Linked DNA regions of Homo sapiens. The protein of the gene in region 1 interacts with the protein of each later gene in a pairwise test. Each region holds a gene or a part of one and is shown on either strand. Other genes may lie near its edges. The genes, in order: ARMC1 and MTFR1L.

What was found.
Region 2: the proteins of ARMC1 (region 1) and MTFR1L interact in binary tests that used the Homo sapiens proteins (3 or more experiments, as listed by UniProt).

What each region holds. Positions count from the first base shown.
Region 1 is NC_000008.11:65,631,178-65,638,830, forward strand, and holds the start of ARMC1 (armadillo repeat-containing protein 1), read right to left. Parts: upstream 3,001-7,653; 5' UTR 2,821-3,000; intron 2,749-2,820; exon of another isoform or gene 1,721-2,748; intron 1-1,720.
Region 2 is NC_000001.11:25,814,317-25,826,855, forward strand, and holds the start of MTFR1L (mitochondrial fission regulator 1-like), read left to right. Parts: upstream 1-5,637; 5' UTR 5,638-5,713; exon of another isoform or gene 5,714-8,702; 5' UTR 8,703-8,788; coding exon 8,789-8,812; exon of another isoform or gene 8,813-9,290; intron 9,291-9,327; coding exon 9,328-9,432; intron 9,433-11,985; coding exon 11,986-12,095; intron 12,096-12,298; coding exon 12,299-12,510; intron 12,511-12,539. UniProt on the Homo sapiens protein: Mitochondrial protein required for adaptation of miochondrial dynamics to metabolic changes. Regulates mitochondrial morphology at steady state and mediates AMPK-dependent stress-induced mitochondrial fragmentation via the control of OPA1 levels.

The DNA.
Region 1 (7,653 bases):
ACCTTGATATTCTTGATGATAACAAGTTACTCTGACATCCATTTCTAACTACCACATTGCCTGAATTTTTGGGGGGGAACAGGGTCTCACTCTGTCACCCAGGCTGGAGTGGCGTGGTACGATTTCGGCTTATCACAACCTCTGCCTCTCAGGTTCAAGCAATTCTCCTGCCTCAACCTCCCAAGTAGCTGGGACTACAGGTGCCTGCCACCATGCCCGGCTAATTTTTTATTTTTAGTAGAGACGGGGTTTCGCCGTGTTGGCCAGGCTGGTCTTGAACTCCTGACCTCAGGTGACCCACCCTCCTCGGCCTCCCAAAGTGCTGGGATTACAGGCGTGAGCCACCACGCCTGGCCATTGCTTGAATTCTGTTAAATGATCAATATTTCTGTGGATTGCAGCGTTCACAAAGCAGATTTTATGAGATAGCAATAGAACAGTTAGGAAACTGAAAACAGATAAACGAAAGTTACAACTCTAACCCCAATCATGTATTAGATACATATTATGTTTCTGTGTTAATTTCATCAACTTCACACACTCAAGCTGTTTGATAAAAATGTCCGCCTTTGCTGGGTGCAGTAACTCAGGAGGCTGAGGCAGGAGACTGGTTGAGGCCAGAGTTCAAGTCTACAGTGTGCTATGATCTTGCCTGTGAACAGCCACTTTACTACAGCATGGACAACATAGCAAGACCCTGTCTCTTAAAAAAAAAAAAAAAAAGTCTATCTTCATAGGTTGGAAAAAATGATTTTAAATGAATATTTCAGGATTCAGTCTATCCTACCCACTATATGCCCAATTTGGCAAAGTGCAAAATAATTTTTATTTTATTTTTAAGATAGGGTCTCGCTCTGTTGCCCAGGCTGGATGGCAGTGGCAGAGCCACTAAAACTTTATGCTGCTGTATAAATGCATCTCTTTTAAACATGGCTATGAACATATGAATAAAATGCTAAGCTCTAAAACTCTGTAAGATGGCCAGGTACCATGGCTCAGGCCGGTAATCCAAGCACTTTGGGAGGCCCAGGGGGGTGGATCTCTTGAGCCTAGAAGTTCAAGACCAGCCTGGGCAACATGGCAAAACCCCATCTCTACTAAAAATACAAAAGCTGAGGTGGGAGGATCACCTGAGCCTGGGAGCTCGACAGAGTGACAGCTCATCTCAAAATAATAATAATAATAATAAAATTTGGGAGGCCGAGGCGAGCGGATTACGAGGTCAGGTGATTGAGACCATCCTGGCTCACACAGTAAAACCCCGTCTCTACTAAAAATACAAAATATTAGCCAGGCGTGGTGGGGGGCACCTGTAGTCCCAGCTACTCGGGAGGCTGGGTCAGGAGAATGGCGTGAAACCGGGAGGCGGAACTTGCAGTGAGCCGAGATTGTGCCACTGCACTCCAGCCTGGGCAACAGAGCGAGATACCGTCTCAAAATAATAATAATAGTAATAATAAAATAAAACTCTACAAGACGCCGGGCACAGTGGCTCACGCCTGTAATCCCAGCACTTCGGGAGGCCAAGGCCTCTGGTACTCCAGGGGTTGAGGCAGGAGAATCGCTTGAACCCGGGAGGCGGAGGTTGCAGTGAGCCGGGATCGCATCACTGAACTCCAGCCTGAGCGACAGAGCGATACTCCGTCTCAAAAAAAAAAATAAAAAATAAAGACCATAGCCTCACTAACAAATGATGAAAATGTGAAAAGACTTTTTATACCTTTACTTTCTCTTGTTTAGTTCAACTTGGACAAACAAATCATTCTATGACAAAGAATACTTCTCATCGTTTAATGAGCACTCTGGTCAGTTAAAGGTTCCTGTTAAAAAGCAAATGCTGATTCAGTAGGTGGGAGAGTCTGAGATTCCGCATTTCCAACAAGCTTCCAGGTGAGGCCTATGCTACTTGTCACACTCTGAGAAGCAAGCAGTTAGAAGATACATGTGAGACACCTGTAATTAGGCAGATGCCTGCAAGATTTTTCCTTCTCGTACAGTCAAGATTCACCATTCAATTCAAAGATTTAATTCTCACATGCCAAGAGATGCAGAGGGAATACGTTTAACCTAAATCCTTATTCAGTTAGGTGGGCTTTGATAAAAATAACATAAGCATTGATATTAAATCTGACTTTCCCCTTACTCGAAGAGTTAACTGTAACTTTGAGAAGTTAAGTTCTTAGAGCCTCAGTTATCTCACATAACAATCCTCAGCGGTTATCAGATTAAAGTAAGAACGCGAAATGGTAAAATCAAACACCAGCAATTACCAAACCAGAATACTACTTGCTCATGTGGGGACATCTGTCCTGCCAGGTGTTGGAGGTACCTTCTGCACTGCCCTGACACTTCAGTGCACTAAGTATCACGAAAGGAGTTGCTAACTGCACGAATACCTACCCCCGCCCTCCCAAAACACAGTCTTAAATATAAAAATGGGAACACTGGTCTCTCTTGAATTAAGCCTAACACAACTATGTCTTTCCGCTCTTAGGAGACACGCAGGTGCACAAAACTAACAGAAAGTTACCAAAGAATAACCTGGAGAGATGAAAAGATGAGATGACACCCATTAATAATACTGGGGTTAGTAAAAGTCAGATGTGAGGGGGGACAAAGAAGAAATGAGCAAAGCTAACAGATTCACGGGACACGTGGGGGTAGAGCGTGCTAAAGCGCCTCACTGGGACCCACTACTGGATCTGACAAGAGGCAGGCGGGGCGCCCCTCCCAGGCGGATTCGCTGCCTCGGTACAGGGGCCGCTTCCCGCGGCCTTCCCGGCTCCACTGCTTTGTCTGCCGCCCGTGGACCCCACATACCGCTCCAGAGCTTTAGGAGTCCAGAGCCTGCCACACCATCAGGGCCACACCTACGGATGAGGTAGAGACCCAGGCGGCGCGGAGCGAGCCCTTCGGTTCGCAGCCCCGGCCGCGGCGATCGCAAGCAACCGGACTAACTCAGGGAGCCAAAGAGCGAAGGCGCTGGCGGGCAAAGGCTCTGCAGACTCTTCCCAGGTGACCTGACGCCTCTGTCGCTTATGCCCTCCTATTGGCTGATAATGAGTCCAACGTGAGGATAAAGTATCCAATCAGTGAAGGTCTTTTTAGAGTGAAGCGCTCATAGGTGGTTTAGGGAAATACACTAAGAGTCAAGGGACTGATCCAATGAGGACCCAGGAACACTATATTGGCCCTAACTACTCGCCGTCCACCAAGCCCTAACCGAAGAAATTTGATTCCGGCTGGGAAACTGTCACACCTTCACAACCTCAATACCCAGCTTTGTGGGGCCAGCAGGACTTCTCCGGTCCTGCATTCGGTAATTCAAATTGAGTATTTCTTTAGCAACTCTTGCAATTCTAATAAAGGCAATACCTAATATTTTATTCGCTTCTGTGAGTCTTAATTCATAAATTTTTTTTGTTTTGTGTTTTACTGTGGACGTTAGCACTACATTAGGCGTTCCTTGGATTTTCGTTTATTTCTTCTTGGTGTCCACTGTCTCCCTAGCAGCTTGAAAGACGCAAAGTACAGTTTTCGTTTAAGTAGCAATTTATTTTGGGGAAGAGGTTTTTTTTTTTTTCTTGTAAGGAATTTATTATCACAATCTTCTCAAATTCATATTTTAAAATATCTTCTATGTAGTTTATCAAAGTAAGGATTTATATACTTGTTTTATGGATGGCAATCACTTGAAGTTTTTGTTTAGGCATAGATTTTATTTTTTTTTTAATTTCTTTAAATACAAACCTACTCTTAACCCGCAGGCAGATCTTTGAGAATAATGTATCCATTGCAGTCAATAACCCCAATAAACAGATTCTGGATTCTCTCCATAACAGTTTGATTCGGCCACGTAGCTCATGTATTAAAGTCAGAAGGAATATGAGAGGCCTCTAATAGGAAAAGAGTGTGGATAACAATAAATATCCCAGATTGTATTCAATGCTAATATCTCCTATACTTCTTGAATTTAAAAACCAAGCAGCTACTTCTTGAATTTCTTTCCGTTCCCTTGTTCTCGGTTATCCTCTTGCTTCCAATGAACTCAAAATAGGAGCAAAATAAGCTAAGTAGAAAACAAATAGGCCGGGTGCGGTGGCTCACGCGTGTAATCCCAGCACTTTGGGAGGCCGAGGTGGGCGGATCACTTGAGGTCAGGATTTCGACACCAGCTTGGCCAACATGGTGAAACTCTGTCTCTACTAAAAACCAACCAACAAACAAACAAAACTAACCAGGCGTCGTTGCGGGCGCCTGTAATCCCAGCTACTTGGGAGGCTGAGGCAGGAGAATCGATTGAACCTGGGAGGCTGAGATTGCAGTTAGCCGAGATCACGCCACTGCACTCCAGCGTGGGCAACAGAGCGAGACGGTCTAAAAAAAAAAAAAAAAAAAGTCCAAAGGGCACAGCCAGGTTAAACATAACCCATTTGGTTGAGTTACTTTCTTCAGTATAGTTATTAAAAACAACTAAAAAAAAATCCCAGGAAATTAAACTTGCTATTTTTGTTAACGTTAATATATTAGGAAGGCAGGTACGGGGGCTCACGCCTGTAATCCCAGCACTTTGGGAGGCCGAGGTGGGTGGATCACCTGAGTTCAGGAGTTCGAGACTAGCCTGGCCAACATGGTGAAACCCCGTCTCTACTTTTTTTTTTTTTTTTTTTTTGAGACAGAATTTCTATCTTCCTGCCCAGGCTGGAGTACAATGGCGCAATCTCGGCTCACCGCAACCTCCGCCTCCCTAATTACAGGCATGCGCCACCACGCCCGGCTAATTTTTGTATTTTTAGTAGAGACGGAGTTTCTCCATGTTGGTCAGGCTGGCCTCTATCTCCTGACCTCAGGTGATCCGCCCGCCTCGGCCTCCCAAAGTGCTGGGGTTACAGGCGTGAGCCACCGCGCCCGGTCAGCCGTCCCTACTAAAAATACAAAAAATTAGCCTGGCGTGGTGGCGGGCGCCTGTAGTCCCAGCTACTCCGGAGGCTGAGGCAGGGGAATTGCTTGAACCCATGAGGCGGAGGTTCTAAGCCGAGGTCGTGCCACTGCACTCCAGTCTGGGAGACAGAGCGAGTCTCCGTCTCAAAATAAATAAATAAATAAATACTAAATATAATCATGCTTCTGCCATTATTGAGAAAAGTAATTCTTCCTGCACACTGCCATTACAGAATAGATGACTGCTATTAAGAAGCAGGGGGTGTGTTCACAAAAAAATAATTACCAGTTTCCTAAGCACCTATGGATTATAAGCCTTAGGGAGGTATTTAAAGATTTTAATAATCTGTATTCCCATATTAAAATGTCTAAACTTGGCCGGGCGTGGTGGCTCAAGCCTGTAATCCCAACACTTTGGGAGGCCGAGGCGGGCGGATCACAAGATCAGGAGATGGAGACCATCCTGGCTAACACGGTGAAACCCCGTCTCTACTAAAAATACAAAAAAAAAAAAAAATTAGCCGGTCGTGGTAGCAGGCGCCTGTAGTCCCAGCTGGAGGCTGAGGCAGGAGAATGGCGTGAACCCGGGAGGCGGAGCTTGCAGTGAACCGAGATCGCACCACTGCACTCCAGCCTGGGCGACAGAGCGAGACTCCGTCTCAAAAAAATAAAAAATGTCTAAGCTTGACACCAGTGAAGTTATACTACCTCCCATTGTGAGTCATTGCTTGTTCTTAGCCTCAGGTATCTTCCCACGGGACACTGGAATGTCGTTTCTCAGTAGCTGTGTTGCTTAAGACATGATTCAGATACTGGCAGTTTCATTCATTTAATTATTTAACAACCGGTTTTTGAACGCATACAATGTGCCATAGACAATCTTGACTATGGATTCAAAGGTAAGGAAAATCACAATCCCTGCCCTCAAGCAGCTCATGGTCTAAAGAGCTCAAGAAACAGTGGATTTCAAAACTTTTTGATCAGGCAACACTTTCAGCTTTATATATATGTATTCGAGTACATAGCTCTGACATATTTATATGTATTTATTCCTAAATTCTATACATGTACTATCAAATTAATATGTAGTTTTGAAAATGTCAAAGTAGAAATTTTTAAAGAAAGAGAAATATTTATAAATTGAAGCTCTCACTACCCATCCAGATGAAAATAAAATTGGATCCATATATTACATCATTTACCAAAAAAATAAATTCCAGGTGTATTAAAAACTCAAACCTTGAAGACTACATATATGACCTAGAAGCAGAGGGAAACCTTGAACAAAACTGGAAACCCAAAAGTTAAACAAGAAAAAAAATGGATACATTGGACTTGTTTTAAAAAGCAGCTGGCCAGGCGTGGCGGCTCACACCTGTAATTCCAGCACTTTGGGAGGCCGAGGTGGGTGGATCACTTGAGGTCAGGAGTTCCAGACAAGCCTGGCCGACAATGGCCAAACCCCGTCTCTGCTAAAAATACAAAAATTAGCCAGGCATGGTGGCACACGCCTGCAGTCCCAGCTACTTGGGAGGCTGAGGCAGGAGAATCACTTGAACCCGGGAGGCAGAGGTTGCAGTGAGCAGAGATCACACCATCGCACTCCAGCCTGGGTAGCAGAGCGAGACTCTGTCTCAAAAAAAGAAAAACAGCTCTATAGGTCAGGGTCAATCCCAAGAGCTGGTTTATAGAAAAGAATACCACAATCTCTGGAAAGTGGTGATCCTTTAACCTATTTGGATATAGATTTTTTTTTTTCTGGTCACTATGCACTGATCTAAGAAGAATTAAACTGTTTCAAGACTCAGAACAACCAAATATGCCCCAAAGTCTATGACTGAAACAAAATAGCTCAACAATTTTTCATTGGGCACCATGGTAAAAACATTCATTCAAATTGAGATTTAGATAATAAATGCAGATTAAAATGTTATCTTTTCCCAACAATATGTGCTTTTTTTTTTTCTTCTTTGAGATGGAGTCTTGCTCTGTCGCCCAGGCTGGAGTGCACTGGAGTGCAGTGGTGTGATCACGGCTTACTGCAACCTCTGCATTCTGGATTCAAGTGATTCTACTGCCTCAGCCTCCCGAGTAGCTGGGATTACGGCATGCACCACCACACCTGGCTACTTTTTACATTTTCAATAGGAATGGGGTTTCACCATATTGGCCAAGCTGGTCTCAAACTCCTGACCTCAGGTGATCTGCCCGCCTCGGCCTCCCAAAGTGCTGGGATTTTACAGGCGTGAGCCACCTCGCCCAGCCCAATATGTGCTTTTATTAGTAATTAAAGGAGCTTTGAAGTCAATGGGCACTGCATGCATCACTGACTCTTGCCTCAGGTGAGATGAAGTTGGCCCACTAACTGGTCTTGACCAGCTCTCCTGTAGCCCAGCCTCTCCCAGACACATCTAGCCTCACTGTGTCTCAAAGCACCCTTCAGAAGGGCACTTCACCGTCCTACCCAATAATCTTTTACCATCCATTCCTATATTCTAATGCAGAACCTCCTGAAGCTTATTTCAGTGTGTTACATTTTCTCCAGGGGGCAATTAGAGCTGGGGAAAGAAAAAACAGAACTAGAGGAAAAGGGTCTCAACTTCCAGGAAAGATCCTTTGTAAGCTTTGCAGATTATTCAACCTGTCTCAACAAATGGGGCTGTCATTAAGCCTTATATGAGAAACAGGCTGACATAGACATTGGTCTGTTCC
Region 2 (12,539 bases), on another chromosome or scaffold:
GTCTCTTACCCAGTCTAAGCCTCCGTTGTCCCCGTGTAGAAACAGGAATCGTGATGCAGGTGTTGGTCATCGGGGGCTGCGCAGCAGTGAGCATAGTCCTGAGGCAGAGTCAGCGCCTCCCTAGAAACACAGCCTGGAAGGGAAGGCTCACCTTGGACCATGGCGGCCAGTCCTGGGATGGAAGGGGAGGGAGGAGCCAGGCCTTGTGACAGAGACCAGGAGAGGGCCCTGAGCCAAGATTCAAGACCCCACCTCTCCCTAAGGGCCCCTTACCTAGCACTCAGCAAGTCTTCTCACTGGGGCCTCACAGCAGCTTTGGGAGATGGATGGTCATGAATACCCATTTTATAAACAAGGAGGCCCAGAAAGTTGAGAGACTGGACAAATGTTGCAGTCAATTAAGTGCAGCTGGCTTTGAACCGAGGCCTGCCCTTGAGCCTCAGATCTCCAGCTCTTCTGATCAAAGCGACCCCTCATCCTTTAAGTCCCAAGGCATGGTTAGTGTGGGACCCAGGGCTGTAGGAGGGGGCCGGCTTCCTCAGGATCTTAGGATGGGAGCAGTTCAGGAGCAGGGGCTGTCACGGGAGAGGTGTCCAGTGAGGGTTTGGTGTAAAGGAAAGGGCACCAGGCGGAAGGCATCTGCTGTCCCAGGCGCAAGGGTGATGAGATGGTGTCGGGGAACTGGATGAGGCTGGGCCTGGTTGGGAGAACCAGGCCTCCCATTCATATGAATGTTGATTGAATGCTGATTCATTCATTTGTTCATCTACTGGGCACCTACTGTGTGCCAGGCACAAAGATAAAGACACAGCCCCGTGCTGAAGGAGCTCAGTCTCTGGAGCGAGAGGCCAAAGGAGAGGCCCATTGAATGTGAGGCTGCAGTGAGAGAAGGGAGCACGGAGTTCAGGATGGGAGTCCGGGGTCACAGGAACAGAGGAGAGGGGTCATTTCGGGGGGCGGGGGCAGAGGGCTAGTAGAAGAGGTGATGTTGGAAGGTGTTGGGTTTTCACTTGGTAGGCAAGGCAGGGAGGAGCCCCCTCGTCAGACACAGGGTGATGAGATGGTGTCGGGTGCTGGCGAGGGCTTACGGCAGCACTGCCTGCCCACCATCCACCTCAGACAAGGACAGTCAAGGCCTGATAGCATCCCTGCTTCTCCCCATAGAAGAGAGGGCACAGGGAGCCTGGGGGCCCCCCTCCGCCCCACTTGCCTCACCCGGCCCTTCTCCCAGGTCCATCACATCAATGCCAACTACTTCTTGGACATCACCTCCGTGAAGCCCGAGGAAATCGAGAGCAATCTCTTCAGCTTCTCATCCACCTTTGAAGACCCGTCCACGGCCACCTACATGCAGTTCCTGAAGGAGGGACTCCGGCGTGGCCTGCCCCTCCTCCAGCCCTAGAGTGCCTGGACGGGATCTGATGCACAGGCCCCCACGCCTCAGAGCCAGAGTGGTCCTCAGCCCATTTCAGACTGCAGATGCCGCCCACTCCCACCCCACTCCTAGGCTGCCTTGGAGGGTACAAGATCCACTGAGGGTGGCCACCACAGCCTTGGCTCCATGGTGGCGGGTAGACAAGGGATGCCTGGGCTGACTGGGCAGAGGAACCTCTAGCTCTGACTGTCACTCGGCTCTCCCTACCCATTTGGCTCTGGAAGCTGCTTGGCCCCCCCAGATCAGGGCCTGGGTGAACTCCCTGGACCTTTCCTAGCCAGCCGCACAGTCTAGGCCCTTGTGGGGTGAAGAATGGAGGGAGGAGCAGGCTAGGAAGACGGGGCCACCACCCTCTCCTTGCTTTCAGCCCTTCCCACAGGAAACATCAAGAAGCCCCAGCCAGGAGGGGCCAGGCTGCCAAGGCGGCTCCCCTGTTTATCTAGAGCCTTCGTTCCTGGCCATACCCCGGACTGCCCTCCTGTGCCTGATGTCCCCAGCTGGGGTCAGTCTCAACAGGAGCCAGTCTTCTGGAGCCTCTGGGCAGAACCCTCCATCAGAGTGGAAATCAGACGGGACCCCCTGCAGCTTCCCTGACCACGCCACTGACCAGCTATCTGGGGAAGTTTACTGTGAAGGGGTTTCTGCCTTTAGCAATGGGGTTCACTAAGGGGGTTCCCGAGGCCCAGGGCCAAGGCACTCCCACCGCCTACCTTAGCACAGGGTCTCTGCAGGACTGCGGGAGCCAGCGCTCCTGCCGCCCCTCTTGCCCCTCAGACCTTGCATCCACAGAAGCACAACCCAGCCAAACACCACAGCCTTCTCCAGAGCCGGCACTGTCCCGGCAACCAGGGGTGCCCCAGGCTAGCTCTTCTACCTCTGGGGCACCACGGACTCCCCTTGGCCACTCTTGGGACTTTGGTCCACGTCCTGAGCCACTGACCACGGCCAGTCTCTCTTTTTATATGTGCAGAAAAGTGTTTTTACACAAACTTTCTCATGGTTTGTAGGTATTTTTTTATAACCCCAGTGCTGAGGAGAAAGGAGGGGCAGTGGCTTCCCCGGCAGCAGCCCCATGATGGCTGAATCCGAAATCCTCGATGGGTCCAGCTTGATGTCTTTGCAGCTGCACCTATGGGAAGAAGTAGTCCTCTCTTCCTTCTCCTCTTCAGCTTTTTAAAAACAGTCCTCAGAGGATCCATGATCCCCAGCACTGTCCCATCCTCCACAAAGGCCCACAGGCATGCCTGTACTCTCTTTCATTAAGGTCTTGAAGTCAGGCTGCCCCCTCCCCAGCCCCCAGTTCTCTCCCCACCCCCTCACCCCACCCGGGGCTCACTCAGCCTGGCAGAGGAAGAAGGAAGGCAGACATCTCCGCAGCCACTCCTGGGCCTTTTATGTGCCGAGTTACCCCACTTGCCTTGGGCGTGTCCACTGAGCCTTCCCCAGCCAGTCTTGTTCTCAATTTTGTTTTGTTTTGTTTTGAGACGGAGTCTTGCTCTGTCACCCAGGCTGGAGTGCTATGGCTCGATCTTGGCTCACTGCAACCTCCACCTCCCAGGTTCAAGCAATTCTCTTGCCTCAGCCTCCCGAGTAGCTGGGATTACAGGTGCATGCCACCATGGCTGGCTAATTTTTGTATTTTTAGTAGAGATGGGGTTTCACCATATTGGTCAGGCTGATCTGGAACTTCTGACCTCAGGTGATCCACCTGCCTCAGCCTCCCAAAGTGCTGGGATTACAGGCGTGAGCAATCGTGCCCAGCCTTGTTCTTAATTTTGTATCATCCAGTCATCGCTAATATTACACGCACCTTCTCACTTAATCCTCACGACAAGCCTGTGAGGCAGATGCTCATTGTTCCCATCTTGATGAAACTTGAGTCTCAGGGAAGTGAAGTGACTTGCCCAGGGTCACTCAGGTAGAGTTGAGATTCAAACCCACATGTGGCTCCAAAGTCTGCATCTGGATTTGGGGGTGTTTTTTGGCATGGCACCCTCACCTCTCTCCCTGCCTGTTTTCCCCAAAGTGGAAAGGAAGGCCTTTCAAACCAGAGTGTCTCACTCCCCTCTGACCTCCAGACCAGATGGGGCATGAGCCAGCCAGCTCAGCCAGGCTCCCTGTGTCCTGGGAGGAAGTGTCCCCATCCCCCATGCCCCTTATGGGGAGGGAGGGCGTCTGATGCTCTCTCTCTGCCTCCCCCCCCATCCTGTCAGGCACAGGTGACGGGGGCAGCCCATGCGAGCCCTTCTCCTGCTGCTCTGGGAGGGCCAGTTCCACATTGAGCCAGCCTGGTCCCATGGAAAATGATGGCCTGGGCTTTCTGAGGCCTTATCTGATGCCTCTGCAGTTCATGTCCCCCACCAGGCCTCGAGGCTCAGGGTGGGAGAGGGCCCCGGGCTGCCCTGTCACTCCTCTAACACTTCCCTCCCCTGTCCCCAACATGCCCTGTAATAAAATTAGAGAAGACTAACTAGAGTGGTTCTAAGTGCTTTTCCTTTGAGTGGCATGTTGCTCAGCTCCGTCCTTCCATGGGGTGGCTCCCTCTTGGGGCAGAGTTGAGCTGGAATGCTTTCAGGTACTATCTTACCTATCGAAGGCTTGAGTGACTTGCCCAAAATAAGTTTTACGATAGAACAAGTGGTAGGACTTACTGTTTTGAGAATCTGGTGCTCTCTGTTGAGAGAGATCTGGGAGTTAAAATCATTGTCTTAAAAGCAGAGCCTGAGACAGGCATGAAGTGTTTTTTTGTTTGTTTGTTTTGTTTGTTTGGTGGGGCTGGGGGGGAGTGTACTTCCAGAAAAACCAGTAAAAGAAGGAAGGAAGCAGAAGAGGGAAAGGAAAAATGCTGAGCAGGAACAGTCTCAGCCCAGCCTTGGCCTGACCCACAGTGGAAGAGCTGTGGGGCATAAACCACACTGCAGAGCTGAACTGGCCTTTTGGACCTTTTATCAGTCATTGGCTTGGGAGGTGAAGGAAATTCCCAGGTAGGGAGCTCCGTTCTTCCTGCAAGGGGATCTGAGTGGGACACCAAATCAGCATCTACACCCAGGACAGACAGCCAGCGTGGACTTGCATGATCCGCCATCGCACAGGAGGGAAAGGTAATGATTAAAACACAATGTGCCATCCTGGGAAGAGGGCCAGACCTGGAAGTCAATCTTCAGCGTTTGAGATATGGTGGAGATCAGGGTGGACGACCTCTGAGGTCTCTAGCCAGGACCAGTCACATAATTTGCACAGCCCCGTGCAAAATGAAAACACAAGAACCCCTATTAGAAAATCATTTCAAGACGGCAACAGCAAAGTACTAAACCAAGTACAGGATTCTGAGCATGCGGCCCGTTGTGACTGCATGGGCTGTTCACCCATGAAACCAGCTCTGTCTCTGGCAGAGGGGACTGCAGGCTTTGGAACCAAGGAACTCCAGCCTGGGAGCCAGGCACAGCCCGAGGCTGTGCTGAAGGCAGAGAAGGAAATGTGACCCAGGAACTGCATGCCACAGACCAAGACAGTGAGGGCTGGAGCACAAAGAGGGAGTGGGTTAGTGAGCCTGGAAGGAATGTGGCTCTTCCCACAGAGCCTCTGGAGTCTTGTACATCAAGTACCCATCTAATAAGCAAACTCATTGAATATACCGTGTGTGTGTGTGTGTGTGTGTGTGTGTGTGTGTGTGTGTGTGAGAGAGAGAGAGAGAGGCTAAAATAGAAGAAAGCTGCAAAGTGCTGGAGGGCAGGAGTCAAGAGGAGAAAGAGGCCCATTCTGCGCATTCTTGCTGGAGAGAGGCTTTGCAAAGGGACCTGCCTGGGAACCAAGAACTGGGAAGGGGGCCAGGGTGAGGATTCTGAAGTTTGCCCTAGGGGTAGGAGCATATTTTAGGGGTCGAGCGACACACCCCTGGGCTTCCAGAAGTCGGATGGGGCTAAACGTGGAGAGCAACAAGCAGGGAGACGCGACGAATACCAGGCCGAGGGATCTCCAAACGCAGCCAACTCCTCCCGGGGACACAGACCCCGCGGGGGCACGGTCTCGATGGAGGGGAGTGTGCTCCGCGGTATCGGAGCCTACAGCCGCCAGCGCCTCGCCCACTCGGGGGCCGCGCTCCCCTCGCCACCGAGCTGGACCCGCCTCCTGAGGGTGCGCGGAGGTGCGCCTCGGTGCGCAGCTGCGGAGGATCGCTTCCGGGGGGCGGGTCAGCGGAAGTGAGGGCGGTTGAGGCTGGGCGGCCCAAGGTGGAAGGAGGGGCCGTGAGGTGAGAGAGTCCGGGAGCCCGAGCTTGAGGTGAGAAAGGTTCTAGGGAGGCGCGGAGGCGGGAGCGCGACCTTCCAGCCCGTTAGTAGACTGGGTCTACGTGCCGGGCGCTGTGCGGAGCCCGCAGCTCCTGTTCCCGCGCGAGTTCTCGCGGGAGCCGCAGCTGTCCGTCTCACTTGGCCCGGGGGAAACTGAGTCCCCGAAGGGTAGTTGCTCGTCGGAGTTCCCCAGCAAACAGTGACCAAGCCAGACCTCAGGCTTCTAGTTTCGGCTTCGCTGCTTGACGGGCCGGGCTGCCCCGCCGCGCATTCTGAGACCTGGCCGCGGCTCGGAGGCTTCCGCGCACTCGGGTCCGGGTCCTGTGGGTCCAAGGGCCGCTGGGCAGGCGGCGAGCACTTGGCCGACCTTGGCCCAGGTCGGGTCGTCTGCCGCGGGGGAGGGGCGACTCGCCCTGGCGGGTCCCCGCGGGGAGAGGGTCCGCGCGGGTCTCCGGCCACTGCTGCGCGCGGCAAAGTTTCACTGAGCGCGGCGGCCTCCGTGGGGGCCCCCGGGACCAGGGGTGCTGAGCAGGGCCCTGCGCTGGAGGAGCTCCCGTTCTCCTGAGGGGACGCCTGTCAGCAGACAGCAACTGCAGCCTCCGGAGGGCTGCGGGGCGCAGAGGTGACAAGACCCACCGGTGCTGCCGGCGAACCGGGGGAAGATCTTCTAGCCAGTGACACTTGGGGGCGGGGGTGACAGCTGAGTTGGTGTTCCCCTTCATTCGTTTAGTTCAGCGCGTTGAAGCGCTCACTGTGTCCTAGGCAGACACCGTGCTGTGCGCGGGGATCACAGTTATCTAGTTCCTCTCGCGAGGACTCCGAGGGACAGGCAGGGTGCTGCGGAGCGCACAGGAAAGGACCTGACCCTGTCGCAGGGAAGGAAGGTGATGCTTAAGCTGAGCTCTGAGGAATGATGAAGAATGAGCTCGGCGAAGGGGGTGCTGGTGTTTGATGCAGGGCTCAGAGGTGGGCCCAGTGTTGGGGGTTGAGGGCCAGTGTGGCTGGAGGGCAAGGGGGAGAGCAGGAGGGCTGGCTGCGAAGCGTGCAGGCCTTGGTGCTCAGTGAATGTGGTCTAGAGACGGCAGAGAAAGATGGGTTTGGGACTGATTGTGGATTTTATCCTGTGTTGGCTCTAGTAAGCCAGTTTTAAACGGATGAGCGATGTGATTAACTGTGTTTGGGAAGGATTCCTCTGGCTGTGTGTGAGGGTTAGGCCCGGCTGGGTCTTTGGAGGTAAGGTCGGAGAGGAAGTGGCAGTAAGCACCGTTAGTGCAATTTGTGGCCGACACGGACATTCAGCACAGAGCCTGGCACACAGAGGGACTCTGATAATAAAGGCTTGAACTGAGCCGAGAAGATGGAGCCCACGCAGGAGGTGGCAGGACCTGGACCAGGCTTTGGGTGCTTTGCACTGGCATGACCACTGAGTGACCTTAGACAAGTGCCTTCCCCTGTCCAACTTCCTTTCCCCATGTGTATCGTGAAGTGAATGACACCTCGTCTCCCAAGGGTAGAAGAGGGGACCCTCCACAGGAGGTCTCCAGAAAGAGCTGCTTTGTCAGTCTAGTCTATCTCCCATTCAGAGCCTGTCCAGGGCTCCCCAGTGACCCGGACCTCATGACTTGCCCCCTACTTTTGTAGCTTTATCATGCTCTGCTCCTCTTTCCATGTCCTTCACCTTCTTGTGCTGGACCTGTGCTCTTGCTGTTTTGTCTTCATTTCCTACTCCCTCGCAACTTACTACAGGGCACTAGGGCCAGAGCTCTGACCTCATCTGGCCACCTGCCTAATGCTACTCAGCCTTTGCTAGAAGTATGTATTCATGTCCTATCACTCTGCTGGACAGCGAGTTCCTTGAGAGCATGACTGTGTCTTACTCCTTCCATAGCCCCTACGGTGCCCAGCACAAGGCCTGGCACAAGTGGGTACTGTTGGTGTTTGATGAACAAGTGAATGAACGAGCACACTGATTGCATCTGCTCACCATGCAAGGACTGCTGTGAAGAGCAGTCAGATGTCACCTCACCCATCTGTGTCATGTTTTAACAGTTCATTAAGCACTCAACCCCATTTCACTCATTGACCCTTAAGGTAGCCTCCAGTGGCAGCTTTTCCTGTCTCCTTTTTCCAGATGGAAAAACCAACATTCAGAAAAGTTAAATAACTTGCCTGTAGCTACAAAGCCAGAAGGTGGCTGAGCCAGGATAAACTTTTTTGGCTCTTTTTCTCTGTAGCTCATGAGACTGAGATTGGCATGAGCTGGTGTTCGTTCTCCTATTTTCTCTGATCTCTCCCTTTGCAAGGGCCCAGCAGTGCTTTTACATCTCATCTTCAAGAATGAATCCTGGGCTTGGATAGTACTTATAATTTGGCTAGATGAGCTTTGTAGCTACCAAGGATTCTATTTGCATCTTTAGAAGTTTTGCCTCAAGAAACCTGAGAGCCCAGGAAGGCTCTTGGGTTGGCCAAGCTCACTAGGCAAATCTTTTTTTTTTTTTTTTTTTTTTGAGACGGAGTCTCGCTCTGTCACCCAGGTTGGAGTGCAGTGGCGTGATCTCGGCTCACTGCAAGCTCTGCCTCCTGGGTTCACGCCATTCTCCTGCCTCAGCCTCCCAAGTAGCTGGTACTACAGGTGCCCGCCACCACACCTGGCTAATTTTTTGTATTTTTAGTAGAGACAGGGCTTCACTGTGTTAGCCAGGATGGTCTCGCTCTCCTGACCTCGTGATCCGCCCACCTCGGCCTCCCAAAGTGCTGGGATTACAGATGTGAGCCACTGCGCCTGGCCGCAGATCTTTAACAGAACCTTTAAGAGTCTGGACTTAGAGCTAAGTGTTGGGTGAGGGCAGCCTCTTGGGCTGGTTTTCTCCCCTGTGAAGTCATGGCTCTGCAGGGCCTGGTTTTTTGGGGCTTGTGTGGTGACCATTAAATCCCCACTGTGGGGGGTTGTTTCACAAGAGGGAAATCTGGTGCTCCTCCAGATGGCCTGATATGAAGGAGTCACGCCTCCCGCCTCCCGGAGCTGCCCAGTGGCTGCCTTGTCCTTCAAGTGCAGGAGCTGGTTCAAATGTCAGGAATGGAAGCCACTGTGGTAAGGGGCATTCCCAGGGCAGGGGTATGGTGGGGAAGGTTGGGTGCTGGGCCTGCTGAAGTACTGTAAAAGGTTCTGAGACTCTCCAGTTGAGCACTCCTTTCTCCAGAGGCCTGGAATTGGAGCAAGGCCACCGTTTCACTCCCTCCCCCTAAGAAGAACCAACTATGATCCTGGGGCACTTCAGGAGTCAGTGTATGTCTGCCTTTCTGTACAGAGGACGGGAAGGAAAGCCTGGATAATCTCTACACTCAGCTACTTCCTCTCCCCTTCCCTGACCCTCCCAACATTGACTGCCTTAGCAGCAGCAGGTATTCCCTTGGGTGGCTGGCCAGGGTGTAGGCTGGCAACTGGGGAACCTGCCCTCACTATAATTGAGAGTTGACTTGCCCCTAGAGAGTGCCCTGTCCCTAGGTTTGTGGAATTCAGTCTCCACAAACCTAGAGAGGAGAGGACAAGGACAGTAGTTGGATTCATTCTCTGGGGTTGTAGCTGTCTCCGTCTCTTTGCTCCAGACCATCCCAATCTGGCAAAACAAGCCACATGGGGCTGCTCGAAGTGTAGTAAGAAGAATTGGGACCAACCTACCCTTGAAGCCGTGTGCCCGGGCGTCCTTTGAGGTGAGTATGTTGGAAGGGCAGGAGAGTAGAGGCTCAGACAGTGCTGCTTCTGTGCCCCAAACCCCTTGGTACTGCCCAAGTAGGTTGTTTCCTGGTCACTTTTCATTCTGTTATGAAATATTTGTTAAATGCTTATAAGATATCCTGGTCACTGTGTCCTCCTGAGTGCATACAAACCTGTGACCACAAGGAACCTGACAGGTCCCCCACATGGGACACTGACTATTGTGATTTTTGAGTTGAACTCTGCTTTTCTTCACCAGCCCTAAGAATTGACCATGTAGCCAGTATTTTTATTTTATTATTTTTTGAGATGAGGTCTCCCTATGTTGCCCAGGCTAGGTCTTAAACTCCTGGGCTCAAGCAGTCCTCCTGCCTCAGCCTCCTATGTAGCTGGGATTACAGGCACAAGCCACCATGCCCAGCTCCACTATTTTTAGTGTTTCTCTGAGGCCATAATTCCTCAGCCTTCTCTTTTTGGCCAATCTGGGCATCCTTTACTGGGGTGCTTTGGTCTTACCTCTGTGTCTAGGGATCCTTTAGCACCCACTCAGCAGCAGAGATTCCTACCTGGCCCAGGTCTCTTGAGACCCCTTCTGTGGTAGAAAGCTAAGTAGCATTTATTAGTCCCAGCTGCCTCCCTCTAGGAACTAAATGGTTAAGCACCAGCCCCAAACTATATGGTTCAGATGTGTGCATTTGGAGAGCTGGGATACAAAAGAAATACTTGTGCTTTCTACCCACACAGAGGAGATAGAAATATGTGCATGAAAGGATGTGGGCCCAGGTAGAAACAGAAATGAAGGAGCCAAATCTGTATAAAAGATGCTAAGAAGCAGAGTCTGTAGGAACTGGATCTGGAATTAGAAGAGGTGTCAGGGTTGGTATTAGGGTCAGGAATGGAGTTGGAAGTGTCGCAGGGGTAGGGGGCAGGAAAAGCTGTCCCAGTATTCAGATTGCCAGCTATCCAGAATTGTCTAAAGATCCTGGGCAGGAACTGGTCCTAACTTGCCTCAGAAGCATCAGAAAAAAAAAAGGGAGACAGCTAGGGAGTGTGGCTCACTGCATAGAGGCCGTCCCCACACTTGGCTATACCCTCTTCAGTTCTTTGGCCAGATGCTGGGCAGAGACAATCAAGGGCACAGGCTCTCACAGAGCAGGAATGTATGTGAGCAGTATTGGTAATACTAGATAACATTTACTGAGCACATACTATGTGTCAGGCACTGTGCTGTACTTTATATTTGTTTACTCATTTAATTGCCAAGAGCAAAGGAGCATTCAGGGCTAATCAGGAAAACAAATGGAGGCTTCCCCCAAATGCCCTATTTTAGCACTAGTTCCTGGGTCACTGGAAGTTCTTCTCTGTGTGACCTTGGAGTATCACTTAACTCCTGTGAGTCCCAGGTTTCCTATCTAAATGCAGGAGCGATCAATCCTGGATCCATCTACCATACCAAATAATTTGTAGCAGAAACAGTTGAATCTTACTTGTGTGTAAATATGCATTTATTATTATTATTAAATTACCTTAAATATTATTTAAGGGACTCTTACCAATTTATTTTGAAAATTTAAGCATATGAAAATATTAAAATTATGAAAAGTAAAAGGAAAATAAATTACCTATAATTACATAGTAATAATACAATAACTATTAATGTCTTAGTGTAGTCCTCTTTTTCTAGATGGATGTTTTTTACTTTGTTGTAATCACAGTCAACATGACTGAATCCTAATTTTTCACTTTACTCAACATCTCTAGGTTGAGGAGCTATTTTAAGAAATCCTATTATGGTTCCTTTTGTATAATCATTTATTTTTATTTAAATCTAAATATATTCAAATTTTCAGGTTTGTTTAAAACAGCATTGCTGTAACAATGTAGATCTCAATTAGCTATACAGGATTATAAAAAGCTAGTCAGGAAAAATTTCCTATTGCTGTAACAGGTTGTGGATGACCTTGTACTTGTATTTTCACCAGAGGGCACAGTGGTTTTAGACAGTTGCCATCTCTACTAAAAGGTGACTCAGGCCTTTTCCACTGAAGACACAGAACTGTTTGTAATCCCATAGACTCTCATGTGTCTTGCCTGTTTTTGTTTTTGAATGTGGCTCTGTTGTCCACGCTAGAGTACAGTGGTGCAATCTCAGCTCACTGCAACCTCTGCCTCCCAGGTTCAAGCCATCTTCCCACCTCAGTCTCCTGAATAGCTGGGACTACAGGCGTATACCACCATACCCAGATAATTTTTGTATTTTTTGGTAGAGGCAGGGTTTTGCCATGTTGCCCAGGCTGATCTCAAACTCTTGGTCTCAAGCATTCTGCCTGCCTCGGCCTCCCAAATGCTGGGATTACAGGTGTGAGCCACCATGCCTGACTGTCATCTGGCCTCTGTTCAATGTTTTCGACCAGGAACCTTCTTCTGCCCCCTCTAGGAAGCCTTCCTGACACCCAGTGCCGGATTAGGTACCCCTCCTGTGTATTCTGCAGTTTCTGATTGGCTCATCATGGCATCTGTAAATGTTGATGACTTTTGCTTCTCCATAGACCCTGCCCAACATCTCTGACCTGTGTTTGAGAGATGTGCCCCCAGTCCCTACCCTGGCTGACATCGCCTGGATTGCTGCGGATGAAGAGGAGACATATGCCCGGGTCAGGTAGTTGAGGCAGTAGCTGGTCTGCTAAGGAATGGAGAACTTCCCAGAAGAGGTGGCAGGCAGCAAGGAGAGAGGAATGAGAACTGTGGGCTCAGAGAGGAGCAGAACCTTACTATACTACTCTCACAGAAGTGGGGGAAGGAACCTTAGGAGCACAGTGGCCTGCTGTCTCTAACTGATCTACTTGGTTTTCCCTGGTCCAGGAGTGATACGCGCCCCCTGAGGCACACCTGGAAACCCAGCCCTCTGATTGTCATGCAGCGCAATGCCTCTGTTCCCAACCTGCGTGGGTCCGAGGAGAGGCTTCTGGCCCTGAAGAAGCCAGCTCTGCCAGCCCTAAGCCGCACTACTGAGCTGCAGGACGAGCTGAGCCACTTGCGCAGCCAGATTGCAAAGATAGTGGCAGCTGATGCAGGTAGGAGCCCCTGTGCCAGGGCCAGAACG